Regions from separate parts of the Homo sapiens genome. Here region 2 is linked to region 1. The links come from fine-mapping of genetic effects on gene expression. A gene starts in region 1. The other region holds a variant in brackets. All regions are shown on one strand. Distances are from middle to middle.

Region 1 (5,396 bases):
AAATCTTAAAAATAAATACCTTTTTGAAAATTGGAAAGGAAATAGCAGCATGTCCAACCTTTTAAAAAGTGTTTGTTAGGATGCCAAGTTTTTTGTTTTTTTGAGCGTAGACAGATAGAAATGAATAACGTAAGGTTCAATTATTTCATATAGTGTTAAGGTATGCTGAATTAGAAAATATAGTTTATTTAGACACCAGCGCTGATTTACTTTACAAGCTTTCAATATTATAGTTATAGCCTTAAAACATTTAGAAGACTGTATCCATTTTTATCCATTTCTCCAGTTTGTAGGAAATAAACTAAAATGTAGAGTTTTGGAGTAAAACAAAGTTTCAATACTTTCTTGCGTTTTCAGTGTCGAATAGATAGGGATAACACTCATTTTTCTGAATTTGGCCAATAGAAATACACATATTAGATAAAAAAAACTTTTTGGGGGGATCATCTTTAACTTTGTGTATTTGAGTATGTGAGGGAGAAAATTCCGGGGTTGAATCTGGGTTCTAGTCCTAGATCAAGCTCTCATGAAATATGTGGTCTCGAACCCTTATACAGATACGTTTTCTCATCTTTACAGCATGGATTTGACATGCTAGAGCTGGACTGCCTTTAAGAATCACTGAAGATTTTAAACAAACAAACATCCCCAAAGAAAACAACAATAATAACAGCACACACCTCAGGTGAATCTGAACAGTCAGGTTTGAGATCTACTGAACTCAGATCACCCCTAAGATATGCTTTTAAACCCAGTTGTGAACTCCTTGTGACCACAACCATAGATTATTAATCAAAGTGCTTATTTTAGTGTTGCCTTGAGCGCAACAATCAAGAAATGTTTATTGACTTGGGTTTTATTTTATAGGCTAATATGGCTGGCAGTTTTTGTTTCTTTTGATGCTTTCAGGGACTTCTAAATATTGCAGATTTTCACACACAAAGAACAGTCTGACAATTAAGATTAGAGAAGGTAAAGAATAAACTAAACTAGACTTGCCCTAAATGTGACCAGAATTTCTTGAAGGGGTTAGAAATAACAGAGTCAGAGAAGCATATAGGTAAACATATAATTTCAAAGGAATTGCTGAACGCAGTGATGATACAAGTATGCACAAGGTGGTTCTGTTGGAGTAGAGAACTGGGCAGAATCAAAACCAATAATACCTCATAATTGTATAGTGCTTTACAATTTATACATTTCATTCACCTACATCATCTCACTTATCCTTACAAAGCCCTATATAAAATATTAAAATATTACAACCTCATTTGTAAAAATTAATAAAACGAGGCTCTAAGGGGTGAGAAAATAGAATTTCAGAATCAGAAATAACCTCTGTTAGTGTCCCCCAAACTTCAGTCATTTGCAAATCACCTTTATTAGTTTTGCCATATCTGACTACCACCCATACTATTGTTTACCTAGTATTTTTTATTACGTTGACACACTTGAACTTTTTTTATTCTAAGAAATATTTTTGAAATTATGGGTCTGTGTCATACTTTTAGAAGTTAACATTATAATAAAATAAACTTAAAAAAATTGGTGCCATGCTTTAGAACTTTCTTCAGCACAATACATGAAAATCTTAACACATCTGATGACCGATTAATCCTTCAGTTTCTACTTGCACATCTGCAGTAATCTTAGGCAAGTTCCTTAATTTCGCCATACCTGCTTCGTCATCTTTAAAATGGGAACCCACAGGATTCTTGTGTGGATAAATGAAATCATATATTTAAAGCTATTAGCAGTTCCTGACAGGTACTCGGCTTTCGATAAGTGTTAGCTATCATTGTTAGCTTTAGGGCTGCTTTTTCTTCTTCTTCTCATATTCTCATAATTGTAAAGTCCTTTTAAAATTGTGTCCCCAAAGACACTTCTGTTCCTTTCCCCAATTTAACTAAACTGCCAAAAGTTGAAAAGAGGACTTTAAAGTGACAGGTATACTCGTTATTGTCGTATTTCCCGTCATCACTGCTTTAGAGTACGGAGGTAAAATAATAGGCGGGCGTCAAAATCCTTCGATTTTAGAGCTTTTGCAGGGGATACCAAGACTGAGGTAGAACAGCCCTAAACCTGGAGGGCCGCCTATTGGGCAACCTAGAGCACACCTTTCCTCAGGCCAAACCCAGCGCGCCCGGGGTAGTCTCGAGTTCTCAGGTTACCCCTCAGTGACAGCCCTTTCTTGAGTTCCTTCTCCTTCGCGTCAGTCTCTCGTTCTCCCACCCCGCCCCTCTAGACCAGGTGAGGTTTCCTCCCTCACACTCCTAGGGGACATCGCGTCAATCTGGCTTATATATTGTCTCCTCTGAGTTTGATCTTTCGCTCAACGCCTAGTCACCTGTGACTTAGGTTTCCGTCTCGCCGAAGAGTAGCTACTGCCTAGTGCAAGCACCTTTGTAAGACCGGCGATCGCAGTGGTCGCTCTGAGCAGTAATATTTACCGGCTTAACTGAAGCACCCGCTCTTTTGCTTGCTGGGAGATGTAGTCCCTGGGTTGGCCACTTTAGTTCATCGTTGCTACCGCCGGCGTCCAGAAGACTACAGTTCCCAGCAGGCCCAGGGAAAGACAGGATACCCTGGGTCGGCTCCTCCACGTGACCACCCACTATGGCTTCCTAGTGTCAGGGCCAGCTGTGTAGTGGCTCGGTGTGATTTGTTAGCTCTTTGAGGCAGGGTACCCTCCTCAGGATTTCGATATGCAAAAAATCAAATCTCTCATGACCCGACAGGTAAGTCGCGGCGGCTGAAGCAAAGGCTTCCTTCATCTCGGAAGTGAGAGGAGCCGAGATGTTCTGTCCCCAACCAGTGGCGGGCGGGGATCTAAGTTATGGGTGGTGGCAGGTGTCAGGGGGACTGGGAAGCCGGGGCATACCCTAGAAAACTCACCTGGGCCGCCTGGGTTGGAGCACTGCTCCAGCGGGTACCAGCCTCCCAGAAATATTCGTTTAAAAATAAGTCATTGAAGGAATCAGGGTATCTTTGTCTCCCCTCCTCCTCTTTTTGCCGTCTTTCCAGAACAGCCCGAGCTTCCTTGCAAGGTCTTCCGCATCCAGGCTGTCTGTCATATGCGAGCTGATAGCCTGGGTAGGGTGGTGTGGTCTGTGCAGTAGAGGTGACCTGGAAAGACTGAAAACGGATGATTTGAAGACAGAATTAGTAGCTTTTGGATTTTGGGCAAGTCCCCAAACTTTGTAGCTTACGTTTCTGGATGTGAAAATAATTATTTTTGTTCATTTTACTTCACAGTTCTGTTATGAGGGTCATCGATAAGCTAATATATGTGAAAACTCTTTGTGAAATTCTGCTTTAAAAAATTTATTTTTGTCATGGCAAAATACTGATCTTTTCTTTTTTTTCCCCAGAATGGAAATTCATGAATAAGAGCTTTGGCTATTTTGTAACCTGTCTCATAAATGTTAGGGACCTCGTAATAATGCCTCAGCTTCATTTAAGAAGTGCAGAAATTTTCTTTTATGTACTTATTGATTATGACTTTGTTTTAGCTGCCTTTATTTACTTCAGCTTTAATATTTCACTAGAATTGGTCATTTTATTATTTTAATATGAAAGATAGTTAAGATTAGAGTTTTAAATCAACATGGCTTTTAGAAGTTTGGAGAATGTGGAAGGTAATCGTTTAGTGAAAGGTATATTTGTGAGTTTTTTTCTTGTTGATTACAAAAATAACTCAAATTCCACATTCTTATTTGAGAATTCACAATTTGAGAGATATATAAACAGGATACAAATTGTGTATTTCTCTTGCACAATGCACAAATGACCCTTACATGATTATTTTAGTTATGTCAGAGCATTTTGTTAATGTTATGAAAATATAATCAAAATGTTCTGTGAATAATAAAAATATTTAAGTAAGTGGCTAGTAACATTTGTTAATTCCTCACATGTGTTGAGTACTGGTGTTGTGCGTCCTACTACTTCTTACTTGACGATGAGTTTGGGTCCTGCTGTATCCTGTGGCAGCTGTGTGACTTTCGGCAAGTTACATAACGTTTTTAAGCATCTATTTCCACATCTTTAAAATAGGAATAATGTGTGCCTTATGGAGTTAGCCTGATAGTGGTGTTTACATGATATAATGAAGTTAAAGAGTTTAAGGCGTTAACGGAGTTCCTGGGCATTATCAAGGAAGTGCTTGAACGCAGAGACCGTTAGTTACATTGGCTATGTTGATGGTGGGAAAGCAGGAAAATTGGAAGCAGGCTGTTGCAGTAATTCAAGCAATAGATAAGTTCATGCTGACTTCGGTACCTGTTTGATTTTTAAATCAATATATACTTTTGTACTTTATATCACTAATACCTCTAAACTGCCTTTGGAATGCTGAATTTGGACTTTTGTGCATCAGCTGTTTGATGCTGTCTCAAGTTTGTTGCCTGCCATACAGTTCAGTGTAGTTAACGTTGTCATAATTGTATGGTAGCTGTGGTTGGTTTAGTTTTTTTGACCTCATTTTGTAAAACTGAGGAGAGAAAAAAATTTCAGATAGCAGTGATAAGTGTATGTCTCCTAAATGTAATGCAATTGTGCTGAAAATGGTAACACTTAAGCCTTAGTCAGTTGCTTATTGAATTTCAGCAGGTCAAACCTGTGTTTAATTGAAATGGAAAAAAATACATTAAAGAACACATACAAAAAGCTGGAACCATACTGTGTACAAAGTGAGGTAAAATTAGGAGTTTTGCATACATATTTAAAGTTATCCTAATTATATATGTTATGGCTTGACTTTCACATATTTGATACTGATGCACAGTTCCTGAATCTATGAGGTATGAAATTAGTGTGCCTGCTATTTACATTGAGGGTTTGAATTAGTACAGTTTATTATTGGGTTAAATTTAATAGGATTACAAGTAAGTATACATGAAAGTATTTCTTTTTTTGAACCTATAGAATGTGCTAATAATATATATTGAGTTAATATGGAGAGATAGGAAATTAAGGTCTGTGAAATTTAAGCTTTGGGACATTTCAGCTGTCCTGGGATCTTTGTTTGCAAAATAATGGGAGGAAGGAAGGCTTTGTTAGCTCTCTTTATTTAGATGAGATCTGTTCTTCATCTTTCTCCATCATGCTCACCTCTGTTCTTTCAGTCCATTCAACAAATGTTTATTGAGCAATTTGTGCCAGGTACTATTCTAAGTAAAAAAAAAAAAATAGACAAGTGTTAAGGCAGACACGGTGATAAACACTGTAGAGGAAAAGAGGATAGAAAGTCCTGGGAATTGTTGGTGATTTGAGGTCACTTATAATTTTAGATAGGATGGCCACGGAAGGCCTCACAGAGAAGGTAATATAAAAAAACCTGAAGGGGGTGAGGAAGTGAACTCTGTGAGGTAGATATTTGGGAAGGAGCATTTCCA
Region 2 (5,396 bases), 77 kb after region 1:
GGTTCCTGTGAGCCTCGGGTTACGACATGTTTATCAGCCCATCAGTACATAATCTGAATTCATAGCCAACAACGCTGTAACTCTTGCCTAAATGAAGCTTATCAGACACACATATTTTGTTTCTCAGGCACATCACAGCCTTCTTGTACTTAGAAACACTAGACAGCACTTCAACGCAACACTTGCAGTGGCATTCTAAACAGTTAAATCACCAACAAAAAGCACAAAAATACAAAGCACTTGGCACTAAATAGGTCAAGAAAAGGAAACTTGTTTATAGTATGAGAGCCTAAGCAAGAAGGCAGAGCATGCCTTGTTTGTATTCAGCTGGGAACATGCATGTTGGATGACTCAAAGTTTTCACTGTTCTGCACGTTTATGACTGACTCCAAAAATATCAGAAGTATTGACTTTAGGGTTACAAATAAATTTCAGTGAGTAGGCAAATTTGCAAACATTGAATCCTCAAATAATGAGTATCTATGATACGGTGTGGTCACAAACCTCTGTTGTTGTAATCAGGACATCCTAGTTTATGTAGAATACCTTTCTGCATAGCATCAGGATCACATTGTGTATAAGTATAAAGGAGTACCTGTAAGGCTTGTTTGCAGTTATTAATGTGTGATCTGATCTTTCCAGGTGCAACTTATGTCCTTGAGAATCAGGGTCCACATTTAAATACGACCTTTCATAGTGCTTTTTATTAACAGACTCTCAAAAAATAGTTGTTGAATTAGGGGGCTAAATTCTTTCCATGTTGTTATCATACTGGTTTCCTCAACTGTCATGTGGAGATAAAACTTCCTCATAGAAGTGTCTGTATGATTAAATGAGATAATTCATGAAAGCACTTAGCATAATACTTGGTTAAAAACTCAGTGTTAGCTATTACTTAATGATATTAATGTTAGCCATTTAATCGTATTAATCTATGACATTAATAGATGATGATGATGATGATGATGATGATGATGATGATGAAAGTGCTGTCACTGCTTCCTTTACTGTGTGCATGAATTCCACTGTCTTTCCCATGCTGGCATTGGGCCATGGTGCCATAAAGATGATGAAAATGTTAGGAAGACACCCTTTGTCTCAAGAGTAAATCCACCATTTTTGTCCTCATTCTCAGCAGGTCCCTGTGTTCTAAGCTTAATTTTCTAAGCTGCCCTCGGAATTAAATTTTATAGTGAATTAGAACATCAGCATGTGTGTTGCATGTGTTTATTAAGCTGAAGTAATACTTCCAGAATGCCAGAATTGGATACTGAACCTCTTTTTAATGAGTTTTATTAGCAAATTGGAAATAAGTATGGTGAAACTTCTGAGAGACTTTAAGAAAAAAAAATGCGAATGTATACTCTTTAGGCCTAGTGGAATGTTTGTTAGGTTTTGGTTTATGGCGATTTGATTTTGTTGCACATTTTCAAGCTTTTATAGGTGTAATATTTTTCTTTTGTGCTGATTGAGGTAGAATGATGAAGACAATGGAAGAATAATTAGATTCTTGGTGACAACATTAAAGCTAAATTAAGAATTTTCTTGTATTTAGCTGTTTCTTATAAAACTGAGTACTTTCACTGTGTTGAGACACCCCACGAAAAGAGGCCCTTTATACTCATTTTTTAATAACCTGTGTTTTCTTCAGTATGAATCTGATGAACAAGAAAAGAGTGCCTATCAAGAGTATGACAGTGACAGTGATGTTCCTGAGGAACTCAAACGAGACTATGTGGATGAGCAGACAGGAGATGGTCCTGTGAAAAGGTGATTGTTCTTAAATTGTGTGGTATTTAGCATTTTATCTTGTGCTCTTAACATATAGGATTTCCTTTAAGGTTAAGAAGAAACAAAAATTATTTTTTTTGGTACTTATAATGTCACCTGACAGAAGTTAGTATGTTTTAAAAAATGATTCCTGGAAGGCTAAAAATGTGTTGTTCCTCTTAACATTTCATAACTGAATTTCAGGAAAACTAAAATAGTTATATGAAAAGTTCTGCCTTGCAAAACCTTTGCTGGTATCTCACAGATCAGTTCATCTAACTGTGAACTGGATTGTTAATGTGTCAAAAAAGAAATTGATTTAGCCATTTAAAAACTTTTAAGTGGCTAGTGTTAATGTAGCTTTCCTTTGAGTTATACAGTTTGTTTGACATTGCTTTTTGTAGCAAGATTCTAGTTCCTTTTTTATGGTATCACAAAGTTAGTGATTTGTTTAAATCTGTTAAAATTACTTTATTATCTTGTTGAAAATATTGGGCATAATCAAAGAGATTAGTTTTTGCAGAGGAAAAAGCCTTTAGATTTATAAAATCAATCCTGCCTTTGGTGGCCATTTATGCTTTACATAGATAAATAAAAATCCTCAAGGAGAAAATGGTCATTTGTTTTGTATGTGGAGTTCTTGCTTCAATCTTATAAACACAGAAAGTCGCCACTTATTTCCCCTATGTCATTTTTGTTCACTATTTGAACCTTCTATCAAGGTGTCCTATTAGTGGTTGAGTTTTGTTTTATGATAAACTGACCTCTTCAAAACTATGATAATTATAAGAGAATTTTTTCTTACCTTTTGCCAGTTAAATGGGCCTGATTCTGGAATGTTAAAATGACTTGATTTCATGACTATCATACATTTAGTGACTATAGATATACTTTTTGCTTAATGATAGATTTCTTAATGATAGATTCTTAATGATAAGTATATTCTTATCGTTTAACCCTAAGCTACCTATTTAATACTGTTTAACTTGAAATCTC[G/A]ACTGAAATAATTCTGTTTTCAAAAGTGAGCAATTCACGTAGTTGTAGCTATTTTAATTGAAAAAATTTGTTCTATTGGTTTTTGCGTATGTATGATATTAAGTGTCAGCATGATCTACTGTGAACTGAATAGAACTATTTTGTTGGAATTCTTTATTAGATGTGTTTTGGGAATATTTTGGCCAAAAGGAAAGGTCTATTTGAATTGAAATGTACAAGTAAGATAGTGTCTGCCAGTACATGTGTATATACCTCCATTTTTGGTAGGGTTACTGGAGCCCCCTAAACTTTTTACCCTTAAGAAGTTTGAATTGAACAAATTAGTAACTGAAGCCAATAAATTAATAGATATTATCAGTTCTAACTTGTGTCTCTTGAATTGACCAATTTTTCTTGTATTTTACCACTACCATTCTAGTTTATGCCAAAGTTATCTCTGTGCCAGATTATTAAATCAACTCCTTTACCTTGGATTCTTGTCTCTAGGCTTGCCCCATTCCAAACAACTCTTAGATCTAAATTTAGGGGTTTTTTTTTTCATAGTTACAAATTTAATCATGCTGTTTTTCTGCTTAGCTTTTAGTGACTCACCACTGTGTTCAAGATAAGGTTCATATCCCTCAGGTTTGATTGCTTTCAGAGATATCTGGCCTTTACTTGCCTCCTTTCTTGTCACTTTTCCCTCTGTTCACTTCTTCTACATGCGAACGTGGTGAACTCCTTGTACTTTTCTGAGCGCACTCTGTTCTCTCTTATCTCTGACCCTATTTTATGCCGGCCCTTTTTTCTGTGCTGACCATATAGCTTTTACTTTTCTTTTGAACCTTATGCTGCCCCGTAACCCCAAATACTGCCATCAATATTCTGTACTTAATTCACGTTCTTAGGAGGGTATTTTTTCATAAGTTTCTGAAATCAAGAAACAGTACATTTGCACCTAGATGTATTATTATCCTGGAAAATCAGTTTTTTAAAGAGATGTAGCTTTTTTAGTGGTTGATAATGTTTTATAATCGAAGAAATGCATTATGGTACTTTATTTTTTTGCTTACTTATTTCCCTTATGGATTGTAAATTTTATAAGAAGTTAATTTCTATATCTTTACCTAATGCATAGTAAGATTTTCATTAAATAATTAGTTAATAAAGGCTAGGGACCTATCTGACTAACTTATTGGTTTATTACTTGACAACTCTAGCAACTCTGTTTTGTTTTTCCATATCAAGTGTTTCTCGGGAAACTCTAAAAAGCAGGAAGAAATCAGATTACAGTCTAAATAAAGTGAATGCACCTATCTTAACAAATACAACATTGAACGTCATAAGACTTGTTGGTAAGTAGCTACACCTTTAAAAAAAATTATAACAGTTAAATTAGTTTGTTACCGAATGACTTTTACTTGTGGTTTTTATTGTCTTGTATACTCCAGTGCTCTATGCAATGAGGGATTTAAGGTTATCATATGTCAATGCTTCTCATTTTAAATGTTCCAAATACTATAATACTAATAGTAATGCCAGTTTTTCTTTTTCAGTTACCTGTTTATTAAGTCTTTGTATCTTACAATTTTTCTAAAATATTTCAGTTAATTGAAATGCGATGAAAAATTCTCTAGGTAGGTTAGAGGTATGTGTAAGATAAGTTAGTACCAGTTTCACATTTATACAATATTTTTGTACTTAGTTGTTTCATAGGTCTTTACCATCTTCTGTCAGGCAGAGTGAATAGTGACTTTCTGGCATTTTCAGACACAAGGGATTTACAAGCTAAATGTTCAGATTATAGGAAATGTTGTTTTTGTAACAGATAAGACCTTTATTGATGATTTTGTAGAAGGCAAACAATATGAAGAAATGATATTTTAAATATTCAGGTTTTAGGATGATGTGGATTTTTTTAAAATCAGTATTTCAACATCTTGTATGCTTTTAGCCTTTGTATCTCACAAATAAGTCTATGTATTTGACAAATAAGTTATAGAGATGTCTTCTCCTATTAAACTTCATTGTTCCAAGCAGGAATTTTAGTGGTTTTCCATAAAAATCTCTATATTCTATCTATGGAGATGGTATTTACCTATTGCCTAGTTTGATTAACCTTAGCTCTGTTGAAATAGTCTGTGTTCTTTAAGATAATTCTTAAATTTAATTAATGAATAGGATAAAATGTACAGAATGCTTTTTAGGAGTCACGGTTTCTCTAGAAAGAGCAAAAAATATTACTGAATTGAGAAGAACAGAAAGGTATACCTTTTCATGATGCTCAGAAAAAAGGATAGATTCTAAAAAGCTATTCTGTGGCTAATTATTGCCAGGGAGCTAAGCTTTTCTTCTTCTTCCAAGAGAACTGACTGAACATAGTGTCAGAAATAACTCTCGAGAATTTGTAGAATCAGAATTGGGAGAGTGCTGAGTGGTCATTGGTGTAAGTTGCCATGAAGTCGGTTGTCTTTCTGTAATGTCTCTCATACATGGTAGCTGTCTAGCTTCTGTTTCATGACTCCCAGTCATTGGAAACACAGTGGTTTGCAAGACTACTCATTCTATCATTAGACTGATCTCATTAGTAGAAGTATCTTCCCTAAGGTAAACCAAAACCTGTCTCTCTGTGATTCTAGCCTTTGGTTTGT

Direction of the effects. Alleles are on the strand shown, and positions count from the first base shown. SD is a standard deviation of normalised expression in the study named.
With allele G in place of A in region 2, the expression in pancreas of the gene that starts at base 2,604 in region 1 is lower (large effect, 0.92 SD a copy in GTEx).

What was found. PIP is the estimated chance that this variant, and not a neighbour inherited with it, causes the effect.
Region 2: its variant is fine-mapped to the expression of VPS50 in pancreas (GTEx, PIP 0.95).

The regions. Positions count from the first base shown.
Region 1 is chr7:93,229,763-93,235,158 of GRCh38, forward strand. VPS50 (VPS50 subunit of EARP/GARPII complex) reads left to right here and starts at 2,604. Exons shown (of 28, transcript NM_017667.4): 1 at 2,604-2,738. The coding sequence starts at 2,706. It also overlaps a transcript of HEPACAM2 not described here. RefSeq lists enhancers at 2,305-2,374, 2,515-2,684, 2,775-2,824, 3,065-3,124.
Region 2 is chr7:93,307,173-93,312,568 of GRCh38, forward strand. It overlaps VPS50 (VPS50 subunit of EARP/GARPII complex), which reads left to right. Exons shown (of 28, transcript NM_017667.4): 19 at 1,652-1,770; 20 at 3,994-4,100. Among named protein-coding and RNA genes, the nearest start is that of VPS50, 78 kb to the left of the region's middle. The variant G/A (reference allele first, on the strand shown) is at 2,767.